4 linked regions of the Homo sapiens genome follow. The protein of the gene in region 1 interacts with the protein of each later gene in a pairwise test. Each region holds a gene or a part of one and is shown in the gene's direction. Other genes may lie near its edges.

Region 1 (3,500 bases):
AATTAAGTCTGGTAATTTATTTGATACAATGTATTGTAGTTTTAGTTGAATTAAACTAGTTAGTAAAACTGTTGGTGAGGTAGTGTTTCAGTTACTCTGTAGATAAGCTCTTTTGTTAAAACCTCTTAAGTTTTTTGTTCCTGAATATGTTACAAACATCTATTTTCTCTTACTGTAGCTATCACATGAGGAAAAAAACTTGAAAAAAAGACTTCATAGTGTGTGTTTATGTTTGATTTTAGAAGACCCTTTTGAGGACTTCTTTGGGAATCGAAGGGGTCCCCGAGGAAGCAGAAGCCGAGGGACGGGGTCGTTTTTCTCTGCGTTCAGTGGATTTCCGTCTTTTGGAAGTGGATTTTCTTCTTTTGATACAGGTATTAAATCCCTAGGTTTAATCTCTGTTATCTTAACAGCAGTTAGTACTTATAAAATCATAATACTCTTTTAGTTAGAGTGCTTTAAAATATGTGTATACCTTTCGTAGAATAGCATTGTGGATTTGCCAGCTTTTTTTGGTATACAGGTCTGCGCTTAACCTACATTTTCTCCTAATCTTCCTAAGAATGTCGTGCTTGGAAATCTTCTCCTCTTAATATAATAATCAAGGCCAGAATGTAATGAAATTCTTAGTTAAAAAGGGGCAACATATGTTCTGCATCAGTAGGTGGAAAGTAACGCAGTTGGAAAATCTCACTAACCTTCATGCTGTCTAACCTCCTTTGTAGTTAAAACAAAAGTGCACAAATAGCATCCTAGGAGCATCCCACTGGATGGAATCGAAGGCTGGGCCTTACCACTAGCCCAGGCCAGGCTCACTCACTAGTGAAGTGTCAGCCTCACGCACGTAGCTCTTCATAGTTCACCGATGGAAACAAGCTTGTAGACTGGAGTAACATGAATATGCATATATCATGATATGCCTGTGTGTTTAGCCTGAAGAATCCCACTTTTCTCTGAAGCTCATCCAGTTTCTCTTCACAAAGGAGCTTTTTTTTTTGTTGTGTTTTGTTTTTAAATTTAAAAAGAGTCTCACTTTAGTGAGTGCCACTCTTAGTGTAGTGGCACGGTCTCAGCTCACTGCAGCCTCCCGCCTCCTGGGTTGAAGTGATTCTTGTGCCTCAGCCTCCTGAGTAGCTGGGATCACAGGTGTGCACCAGCAGGCCCAGCTAATTTTTGTATTTTTAATGGAGACAGGGTTTTTGTCGTGTTGGCCAGGCTGGTGTTGAACTGACCTCGGGTGGATCCACCCGTCTTGGCCTCCCAAAGTGCTAGGATTACAGGCATGAGCCACCACTCCTGGCCTGGAGCTGCTGTTTTGATTCTCTCATTTTTATTTTTAAGCCTCCACGATAAGAATTGGGAGAGCTTGTTATATAGGGTTCCTTCTTCATCATGGTCAGAATTTTATTTTCTTTGAACATTGCGCTCATGCCATCTAGGTAAGTAGTGAATTCTGCTCGATTGGACCTCAGTTTTGATGTGCTTTCCCTCAACAGATCCTCTCATTTGATACCATGGAATATGCTGACCACAGGTTAAGAAAGCTAGTTAAAAATACCACGTAAATTGTCCTTTTTAAAAGTAATCAGTGGCTCCTGTATGTGTGTTTGTGTGTGTGTGTGTGTGTGTGTGTGTGTGTGGTGGGGGTGTAAGCCTTCTCCACTTCTGAGGTGCCTTACAAAGTATCACAAGAATAAATACTTAGCGAGGCTTAATTGAGACCAGTGCAGTAGCCACCAGCCACGTGTAGCTCCTGAGCCCTGGAGGCCTGGCTACTCCTAACGGAGATCAGCAGGAGTGTGAAATAGTCATTGGGTTTCAAAGATGGAACATGGGAAGCAGTGTAAAATACCGCAAATGATTTTGATTTTTTGTATTTCCAATTGAAATATTTTGGATATACTGTATTAAATAAAATACTAAAATTAATGTCACTAGTTTCTGCTTTTTAGTGAAATCATTAGAAAAGGTAAACTTAACATACCTGGTTCACATATTTCTTCAGGACACCACCAGCCCTAGACAGTATCTGCGCTTAGATGATTGAATCATGTTCAGAGGTATGCGTCATTTGTGTTAATGGGAGCATTTTGGAAACAGGACAAAAGCTCTAACCAGTAGACCAGCTTTAATATCGAAAAATAGGTTTGCTTTAGTGTGACTTGTGAAAGTTTTTAGTGTCCACACTGCGATAATATCCATAATGTATAATTGAGAATGGTGTTCATGAACTGTAGAACCATAGTTTTTTGAGACGAATACTTGTATTCTTTCTGCAATTATTTTAGTTTTTTAATAATTTAGATTCTTATCCCCTGTGGTCCTGTGGCAAAGAGGAGGGAAGCCGATTAGGTTTGCTGTTCTGTGGTGGTGAGGTCACTCTGTTCCTGTGGGGTAAGAGTGTCCATCACAGTCTGTGGAGTTTACAAGCCACGCCAAAGCAAACAGAGCTTGATACCGAGGCTGCTCTGCTGGTTGGAGCTTAATACTGGTCTCGGTTCCAGAATGTTCACATTAACACAACACGTGCTTCATGGTGCCAAGCAGACCACCCACAAGCAGGGGCTGTCTTTGGCATGTCAGAAAAGCTGCTTGGGTCCCGCGAAGCTCTGCATGAGGAGAGGGGGAGGGGAGAGGCTGCACTCTCGCGTTGCCCTAGAGTCCCCACTCAGGGATCTGAGAGACAGTCTTTCCCCCTGGGCACCCCAGCACTTCAGCTGAGGCCTTGATAGTTGCGTCGTTTATTACTCCTCGGTTCTATGCCTTAACATTAAATATTCTGCTACTGAACTTTCAAACTCTTGTCTTTGCATTACTAGTTGACATATTTCTTTAAGCATTTTTCTTTTCTGTTTTCCTGTAGGATTTACTTCATTTGGGTCACTAGGTCACGGGGGCCTCACTTCATTCTCTTCCACGTCATTTGGTGGTAGTGGCATGGGCAACTTCAAATCGATATCAACTTCAACTAAAATGGTTAATGGCAGAAAAATCACTACAAAGAGGTACTGTGGTATTCTGCATTTTATATTTTTAGTAAGCAGGCGTAACGTTTCACTGGTGCCATGTTGCACGTCTCCCAGAGTGTGAAGTAGAGGTTGTTGTATGCTAAATCTGGCGCCATGAAAATCTTTTGCTCTCCAAATTCATTAATTAAAGCCTTTTCTCTTAAATTTTACTTAACTGTTGAATTATTAGAGGGAATCTTTAATGTAATACAGTGTAATAAGTTTCTGCAGCATTGTTAAAATGGTAAAATGGAAAATCATTAATAGTAAAGCCTTTACTGTTTTATAGCCTCTGCATGTATTTAGCATCCGCCTGTACGGTATTTGAGACACAATTTATTTTGTCAGGTTAATTCTATTTTAGGAAAGGAAGATGTGTTGTTGACAGGTTGGCTTCAGCCATGTTTTTACAGCCTGAAAATTACTTATATTCATGGTGTATTTCAGTAATGTCCTTAAACAACTTAGTTACCCTCACACATGCATTTTCTT
Region 2 (2,587 bases), on another chromosome or scaffold:
CAAGGGGGCCTGATCACCTCAGGTCAGGAGTTTGAGACCAGCCTGGCCAACACAGTGAAATCCCATCTCTACTAAAAATACAAAAATTAGGCCGGGCGCAGTGGCTCACGCCTGTAATCCCAGCACTTTGGGAGGCCGAGGCTGGTGGATCACCTGAGGTCAGTTTGAGACCAGCCTGGCCAACAGGGTGAAACCCCGTCTCTACTAAAAATACAAAAATTAGCTGGGTTTGGTGGCACATGCCTGTAATCCCAGCTACTTGGGAGGCTGAGTCCGAATTGCTTGAACCTGGGAAGTGGAGGTTGCAGTGAGCCAAGATCATGCCACTACACTCCAGCTGGGTGACAGAGCAAGACTCCCTTTAAAACAAAGAAACACAAAAAAGAGCTGGGGAGTTCTCGGTTTTATTCCTGGCTCTGCTACTTCCTTGCTGTGTGACCTCCATTATGTTACTTGAACATCTGTAAAGTAGAGCTACCCACCTCCCAGGACAAATTAAGATGTTGTATGTAAATTGCCCTGTATGGACCAGACCTGCATTCATCCACTCATTTATCCAGCTTTTCTTTCAGTAAATGTATTTATCTCCGGCACTCAGCATCAATGGAATGGAATCGGAGATGCCTTCCTCCTAGGTGGGAGTGAGGAACACTCCTACTCCCCTCCCCTACTTCCAGGTCCCATTTTCAGTGCCCAAGATCCCCCTGGTATTCCGAGGACACACCCAGCAGGACCCGGAAGTGCCTAAGTCTTTAGTTTCCAATTTGCGGATCCACTGCCCTCTGCTTGCGGGCTCTGCTCTGATCACCTTTGATGACCCCAAAGGTAAGCTCATGGGGAGCCTCAGGAGGGAGGTGGGGAGGGTTCCCAGTACTGACCCTGTTTCCCACCACCCAGTGGCTGAGCAGGTGCTGCAACAAAAGGAGCACACGATCAACATGGAGGAGTGCCGGCTGCGGGTGCAGGTCCAGCCCTTGGAGCTGCCCATGGTCACCACCATCCAGGTGATGGTATGACAGAATCCTGGGGCATGCAAAGCATGCCATGCACCTGGGCATGGGGAAGTGGAGCTGTGTCTGGGACCACCCCTTGCTGTCTCCCCCTAGATGTCCAGCCAGTTGAGTGGCCGGAGGGTGTTGGTCACTGGATTTCCTGCCAGCCTCAGGCTGAGTGAGGAGGAGCTGCTGGACAAGCTAGAGATCTTCTTTGGCAAGACTAGGAACGGAGGTGGCGATGTGGACGTTCGGGAGCTACTGCCAGGGAGTGTCATGCTGGGGTTTGCTAGGGATGGAGGTGAGGGCTATGCAGGCCTCCTGCAGGGGAGAGGGTATAGGGTGTGCAAGATTACGGTGCAGGGAGAGGAGAGGGCTTGATGCTAAAGGCCCACCCCTCCTTGCTCCCCACAGTGGCTCAGCGTCTGTGCCAAATCGGCCAGTTCACAGTGCCACTGGGTGGGCAGCAAGTCCCTCTGAGAGTCTCTCCGTATGTGAACGGGGAGATCCAGAAGGCTGAGGTAAGCAGGAGGGGTGAAGAACAGGGGCTGGGCTGGGTAACCTGTCTGCCTGCCAGGAACTTGCCCAATGAAGGATCAGAGGCCCCAAACCCCACTGACCTACCTACCCACCATCAGCCTCTCCAGGCCTCCCGACCTCATACCCCCATGGGGCACTGCCTGCCCTACCCCCAGCCCCCAGCCCTTCTCCCATGAGCCTTTGCCATCTCCTGGCTCCTTTTCCAGATCAGGTCGCAGCCAGTTCCCCGCTCGGTACTGGTGCTCAACATTCCTGATATCTTGGATGGCCCGGAGCTGCATGACGTCCTGGAGATCCACTTCCAGAAGCCCACCCGCGGGGGCGGGGAGGTAGAGGCCCTGACAGTCGTACCCCAAGGACAGCAGGGCCTAGCAGTCTTCACCTCTGAGTCAGGCTAGGGGCCTCCCCTTCTCATCCTCCCCACCCCCCCGCCAAGGTTCTCACACTGGCCTGGGCTTGGGTGCCCATATAGGAGGTCTGTATGTTCACCAACAGTGCGGAGGGGTCACACATTGCAAAACACTGCCCAGAACAGTAAAAAGAGCCTGCATGCCATGATGTTCTTCCTCATTTCACTCATGAAAGGAAACGTGATTTGGGCATGGAAAGAGGCAGGGGGCAGGAAGCAGCCCAGATCTTCTGCTGGCAGCACTAGCCTTCCAGGAGCTCACCTTCCCTCCACTCTCAGAGGCAACAAGCAGGACCCAGGGTTTGGCTTTTTATTGACACAAACACACAAAGGCAGCTGTGGTAATGGGGTGGTGGGGTACACAAAAGCAGAAATCGCACTTCACACATTTAGGCCTCATTTAGACAATGAGGAGGCTGAGCCTGTCCCTCCACCTCCCATTGCAATGGTTGGGGCAATAACCCTCCCTAATCCTAGCTCAGTGAGTAGAGGGAGTGACCTCCCTACCCAGGAAGTCCCCATTTTGGTTGCAATGGCCCAGGTCCTGACCATCCCACTCTGTACTTCCCTGCTCCATCTCCCCACCCATGTAAACAGAGTTTTGGGCTGAGTTTGATAAGCTGCCTCTCTGCTTTGAGAAGGCAGT
Region 3 (3,098 bases), on another chromosome or scaffold:
TCCCAAAGTGCTGGGAGTATAGATGTGAGTCACTGCACCCAACCTTTTTCTTTGTTTTTGAGACAGGGTCTCACTCTGTTGCTCAGGCTCTGTACAGTGGTGCAGTCATGGCTCGCAGCAGCCTCAACCTCCCAGGATCAAGCCATCCTCCCACCTGAGCCTCCCAAGTGGCTGGGACCACAAGCATGTGCTACCATGCCCAGCTAATTAAAAATTTTTTTTTTTTTTTTTTTTAGAAATGGGGGTCTTGCTATCTTGCCCAGTCTGGTCTCAAACTCTTGGATTCAGGGGATTCTCCTGCCTTGGCCCCACAAAGTGCTGGAATTATAGGCGGGAGCCACCGCACCTGGCCGTGCCTGATTTCTTAAAGTTCAGTTCCAGGGCCGGGCGAGGTGGCTCACGCTTATAATCCCAGCAGTTTGGGAGGCTGAGGCGGGTGGATGTCTTGAGGCTAGGAGTTTGAGACCAGCCTGGCCAACATAGTAAAAACCCCATCTCTACTAAAAATATAAAAATTAGCCGGGCTGGGCGCAGTGGCTTGCGTCTGTATTCCCAGCACTTTGGGAGGCCGAGGCAGGCGGATCACCTGAGGTTAGGAGTTCGAAACCAGCCTGGCCAACATGGTGAAACTCCATCTCTACTAAAAATACAAAAATTCGGCTGGGCCTGGTGGCTCACACCTGTAATCCTAGCACTTTGGCAGGCTGCGGCAGGTGGATTGCCTGAGGTCAGGAGTTCGAGACCAGCCTGGCGAAACCCCGTCTCTACTAAAAATACAAAAATTTAGCTGGGCATGGTGGTGGATGCCTATAATCCCAGCTACTCTGGAGGAGAATCACTTGAACCCAGGGGGCGGAGGTTGCAGTGAGCTGAGATCGCACCACTTCACTCCAGCCTGGGTGAAAGAGTGAAACTCCATCTCAAGAAAAAAAAAAATTAGCCAGGTGTAGTGGCATGTGCCTGTAGTCCCAGCTACTCAGGAGGCTGAGGCAGAATTGGTTGAACCCGGGAGGCAGAGGTTGCAGTGAGCCGAGATCATGCCACTGCACTCCAGCCTGGGTGACAGAGTTAGATTCCGTCTCAAAAAAAAAAAAAAAAAAATTTAGCCAGGCGTGGTGGCACATGCTTGTAATTCTAGCTACTCAGGAGGCTGAGGCACGAGAATCACCTGAACCCTGGGGGTGGAGGTTGCAGTGAGCCGAGATTGCACCACTGCACTCCAGCCTAAGTGACAGAGCGAGACTGTCTCAAAAAAAAAAAAAAGTTCAGTTCCAGGGTGTGTGCTAGGGAGAAGCTGGCTGTGGAGGGGCACAGACCCTGGAGCTGGTCCCTGGCTGTTGCCACTCCCCTAGAGGGACAAGTAGCAGCTGCAGGAGGGCCCTGCATGTGCAGGGCTGTAGTGCAGACTTCACCCTGCCGTTCCCAGGTCCTCCCTGAGGCGGGGGCCGGAGAGGACAGTCCTGGGAGAAACATGGACACTGCACTTGAAGAGCTTCAGTTGCCCCCAAATGCCGAAGGCCACGTAAAACAGGTAAGACTGAGTGCAAAGGTGGTCTGTGGTTGGACACAAGATGACTTGCTCCAAACAAAATGGAAACCAGTGAGCACCCACCATGAGACCTGTGTGGCCGAGGCAGGGTGTGCAGCCTGGGTTTCAGAGCTCCCCAGTCAAATTCTCCACCATGGTGTGGGCACATCTGGATTTTGGGGGAGCAGCCCGGAGTGTCTAGCTGCCCTGGGGTTGTGCTGTGTGCGTGTCTGGTGGCCTGCTCACCATGGCCCGCCTTCCTGCTGGTGATGCAGCTCTAGGCTCTCACTCCCCTGTCCTCAGGTCTCGCCACGGAGGCCGCAAGCAACAGAGGCTGTTGGCCGGCCGACTGGCCCTGCAGGCCTGAGAAGGACCCCCAACAAGCAGCCATCTGATCACAGCTATGCCCTTTTGGACTTAGATTCCCTGAAGAAAAAACTCTTCCTCACTCTGAAGGAAAATGAAAAGCTCCGGAAGCGCTTGCAGGCCCAGAGGCTGGTGATGCGAAGGATGTCCAGCCGCCTCCGTGCTTGCAAAGGGCACCAGGGACTCCAGGCCAGACTTGGGCCAGAGCAGCAGAGCTGAGCCCCACAGGCTCCGGACGCAGAGGTGGCAGTGGCACCAGGGCCGGCAGAGCTTTGGAGCTCTGGCTGTGGACATTTTTGTCTGCTGTGGACACTGAGAAAGTTGGCCATGAGGCCTGCTTGGCCGGGGATCGAGACAGTAGCCAAGCTCCCCGGCGAGAGCCCCAATGCCGTCTGGGGGACGTTTAGAGGCGTGGCACTAGGAGTGCACATCTGTGAGCATGACAAGCTTATCCTCCCATGGTAACAGAAGTCCAGGCTGAGGCTGATTCTGGACGCTGTCCTTTCAGCACACGCAGAGCAAAGATCGTTGGAAGCCCCAGTGTGGGAGATGCTCCTCAGGGAGGAAGCCATGTGAGGGGGCTGGCTCTGTGGCGGGTGAGTGGTCCCCTCCTCCATCAGCCTGGACAGCCGCTCGGGGTTCTAAGGAGTGACTCCTGTCCCGGCCTGGTGTGAGTGGGCAGTGTAATAAAGTGTCTTTCTATACGGTGTCGCTCCCATCATCATTTTCTCTAGTGCCGTGATTCCTTCTAAGAAGACTGACTTCCGTGGCCGGGCGCAGTGGCTCATGCCTGTAATCCCAGCACTTTGAGAGGCCGAGGTGGGGAGATCACTTGAGGTCAGGAGTTCAAGACCAGCCTGGCCAACATGGTGAAATCCCATGTCTACTAAAAAAGACACAAATTAGCCAGGCGTGGTGGCACACACCTGTAGTCCCAGCTACCTGGGAGGCTGAGACAGGAGGATCAGCTGAACCCGGGAGGTGGAGGTTGCAGTGAGCCGAGATCACACCACTGCCCTCTAGTATTGTCACTGGGTGACAGAGCGAGACTCAGTCTGAAAAAAAAAACTGACTTCCTATTTTGTCTAATTTATAGCTTTAGTGAATTAAAGAAAAAAGTTCTAGCCTGATTTCCTAACTTGGGGTCTATTTATTTCTCAGGCAATGTTGTTTAATGTAGAAAATGGAACCCCAGCTTCACGTG
Region 4 (2,767 bases), on another chromosome or scaffold:
GGAACTTACAGTCTAATGAATGGAAAAGATAGGTACAAGGGCAGATACCTAATGTCAAAATCATGGGCTAAAAGTAATAACAATTTTATTAGAGAGAAAGAGTCAGAGAGGAAGGGCAGTTAGCCCAGTCCAGGGATTCACAGTATCATCCCTGGAGGAGATGATGTGAAAGCTGAGAGAGAATGAAGAGTCAGGAGAAAGGAGAAGGAAAGAGTATTGTATCTATATAGCACCAATACAAGTGGCTGGAAGTTCAAAATTCAAGTAAGTGTTAATTGCCATCACATAGTATTAATTATTTCTATTCTGCCTCATTCCCAAAAGATTTTGTAGAGCTTATGAAAAACACACAATAAATATAACAAAAAATTGAAAGTAGGATTTAAAATGAGTCATAATTTCAAGAAAATCAGAATACAGATATGCAAGTCACACAGGCCTGCTCAATTGCTACAAACAGCCTAAGATTTTGGACCCCATATTTCTGGCAGCAAAGGTAGAAAAAGAAACATGGTCAGTGCTGGTATTCTATTTGTCCACAAGAAGAAAATATTTTAGTTACTCCAGGGAAGTCACATTTTTTTTCTTAAACTTTGTGCTTTAAAAAAATTAAAGTCTTAGCTGGGTGCAGTGTCTCACCCCTGTGATCCCAGCTACTAGGGAGGCTGAGGCAAGAAGATCACTTGAGCCTAGGAGTTCTAGACCAGCAGCCTGGGCCGTATAATGAGACCCCTAAAAGAAAAAAAAAGTACATGGAACTTCATTTGGGGGACACTGAAAAATGCCATTGACAAGATTCTCGCTCAACAAATGCAGTTATGAATTTCAGTTCTTATTTGTTTTGTGATGGTAGTACTCATTTCAACTGCTTGTTTTCTTAAAATTAAATTCAAACTCACCTTTGCCTCAAGTCTTGCTTCTGCCCTGTTATCTCCCTTTTACGGAAATCATGCCGAGATCCACCCAGATAAGTGCAGAATCCTCTTCATTATGTTTCAAAGCCAGTTTAGTGAGAAATGAGCTTACACAAAGCTATCAATCAGCCAACTTCCTATTCTCCACCAGTTTTTTAGAGATCCTTGGTGAATGTGACCAGGTATAGCTGCATGGTATAGTTAATAGCATGTGATGATGGCATCTTTGACGAATGTTTTTTTTTCCAGGGCGGGAGAGAAGACCCAATGGCCTATGGAGCCATGTTTCCAGGATTTGGAGGCATGAGGCCCGGCTTTGAGGGAATGCCCCACAACCCAGCTATGGGCGGTGACTTCACTCTGGAATTTGACTCCCCAGTGGCTGCCACCAAAGGCCCTGAGAACGAAGAAGGAGGTGCACAAGGCTCCCCTATGCCGGAGGCCAACCCAGACAATCTAGAAAACCCAGCTTTCCTTACAGAGCTAGAACCTGCTCCCCACGCAGGGCTCCTTGCTCTCCCTAAGGATGACATTCCCGGCCTGCCAAGGAGCCCTTCAGGGAAGATGAAGGGACTCCCCAGCGTCACCCCAGCAGCTGCTGACCCACTGATGACCCCTGAATTAGCTGATGTTTATAGGACCTACGATGCTGACATGACCACATCCGTGGATTTCCAGGAAGAAGCAACCATGGATACCACGATGGCCCCAAACTCTCTGCAAACATCCATGCCAGGAAACAAAGCCCAGGAGCCCGAGATGATGCATGACGCATGGCATTTCCAAGAGCCCTGACAGCTCTAAGATATTAGCTACTTTCTGTATGCACAAGCTTCCCAGCTTTGTCCCCACAGTGTACCTTTTTGCTAAAACACTTATTACCCTTCTGCAGCAAAGGCATTAAAAGCGCTAAGCATATATTAATAAATGCAAGTGGCTAGAAATAGTGTAGGTCCCCTTCTTGCTTTCAATATCTTGTTGAAATAAAATGTGTCAATTGTCTCTGTGATTTAGAAACACTATTAATAACATCAGAGCAAGGTTCTAAGGGTCTCAGCATTTGATCATCACTTTTTCTTAGCTGTCTTAAGCATTATAGAATTTCTCTTACCAGCATGACACTATTATATTCAGGAAACATGGCACTGCTTTTTTCTCTAAGCAAAGGCAAATATCCTCATAATTCTAAGCTAATTCATTTAAACTTTATTAAATGGGGATTGGTGGAAAACTCCTGACTGGTATTACTGGGTTTGGTATAATTTAATTTAAAATTCTCATTTATAGAGTATTTTATTTAATCTAGTATAAAAAATCTAGCCTATTTTAAATAAAGAATTTTTCTCACTGAAATTATCAGGAATTGTATGCTTATTATTTATATAGATTTAAATGGTTCAAGAAAAGCATACTCATCCTCTACCTTTGCTTCTCTTTAATTCATTGTATTCAATTCATTCATTCTTTCATCAGAATTTTACTGAATATTCATGTCCTGGGTGCAGTGCAAGGTATCAAAGATACAGTCCCTTCCTTCAAAGCTTACAATGGACATGACTGACAAGTAGACAATCACCATAACAAAACCCTAGACCAAGCTCAATTACTTTACATATATTATCCCACAACAATACTGTGAAATAGATACACTCAACCCCACAGCACATGTGAAAAGTGCTATGAAAAGGCCAAGCACAGGGTGCCCCTGGAGCCACAGAGAAGAAGTGCCTAACCCAGCCTGAGGGTCATCGGAGAGTCTAGGAGGAATCAGACAAGTTTTCTCAGAACAGTTTCTAGAAACGGTTTCAAGAGCGAGAGCCCTCACTCTCCAAGAGGAAGAAACAGAAAAAGAG

Evidence for each region. Proteins that work in one complex are often made in the same cells at the same time.
Region 2: the proteins of DNAJB6 (region 1) and IFI35 interact in binary tests that used the Homo sapiens proteins (3 or more experiments, as listed by UniProt).
Region 3: the proteins of DNAJB6 (region 1) and THAP3 interact in binary tests that used the Homo sapiens proteins (3 or more experiments, as listed by UniProt).
Region 4: the proteins of DNAJB6 (region 1) and AMBN interact in binary tests that used the Homo sapiens proteins (3 or more experiments, as listed by UniProt).

Annotation. Positions count from the first base shown.
Region 1 is NC_000007.14:157,382,004-157,385,503, forward strand, and holds part of DNAJB6 (dnaJ homolog subfamily B member 6), read left to right. Parts: intron 1-242; coding exon 243-374; intron 375-2,863; coding exon 2,864-3,005; intron 3,006-3,500. UniProt on the Homo sapiens protein: Has a stimulatory effect on the ATPase activity of HSP70 in a dose-dependent and time-dependent manner and hence acts as a co-chaperone of HSP70. Plays an indispensable role in the organization of KRT8/KRT18 filaments.
Region 2 is NC_000017.11:43,012,370-43,014,956, forward strand, and holds the end of IFI35 (interferon-induced 35 kDa protein), read left to right. Parts: intron 1-677; coding exon 678-825; intron 826-897; coding exon 898-1,004; coding exon of another isoform or gene 1,005-1,010; intron 1,011-1,106; coding exon 1,107-1,293; intron 1,294-1,406; coding exon 1,407-1,513; intron 1,514-1,738; coding exon 1,739-1,930; 3' UTR 1,931-2,087; downstream 2,088-2,587. UniProt on the Homo sapiens protein: Acts as a signaling pathway regulator involved in innate immune system response.
Region 3 is NC_000001.11:6,630,965-6,634,062, forward strand, and holds the end of THAP3 (THAP domain-containing protein 3), read left to right. Parts: intron 1-1,405; coding exon of another isoform or gene 1,406-1,426; coding exon 1,427-1,531; intron 1,532-1,831; coding exon 1,832-2,113; 3' UTR 2,114-2,598; downstream 2,599-3,098. UniProt on the Homo sapiens protein: Component of a THAP1/THAP3-HCFC1-OGT complex that is required for the regulation of the transcriptional activity of RRM1.
Region 4 is NC_000004.12:70,605,022-70,607,788, forward strand, and holds the end of AMBN (ameloblastin precursor), read left to right. Parts: intron 1-1,163; coding exon 1,164-1,709; 3' UTR 1,710-2,267; downstream 2,268-2,767. UniProt on the Homo sapiens protein: Involved in the mineralization and structural organization of enamel.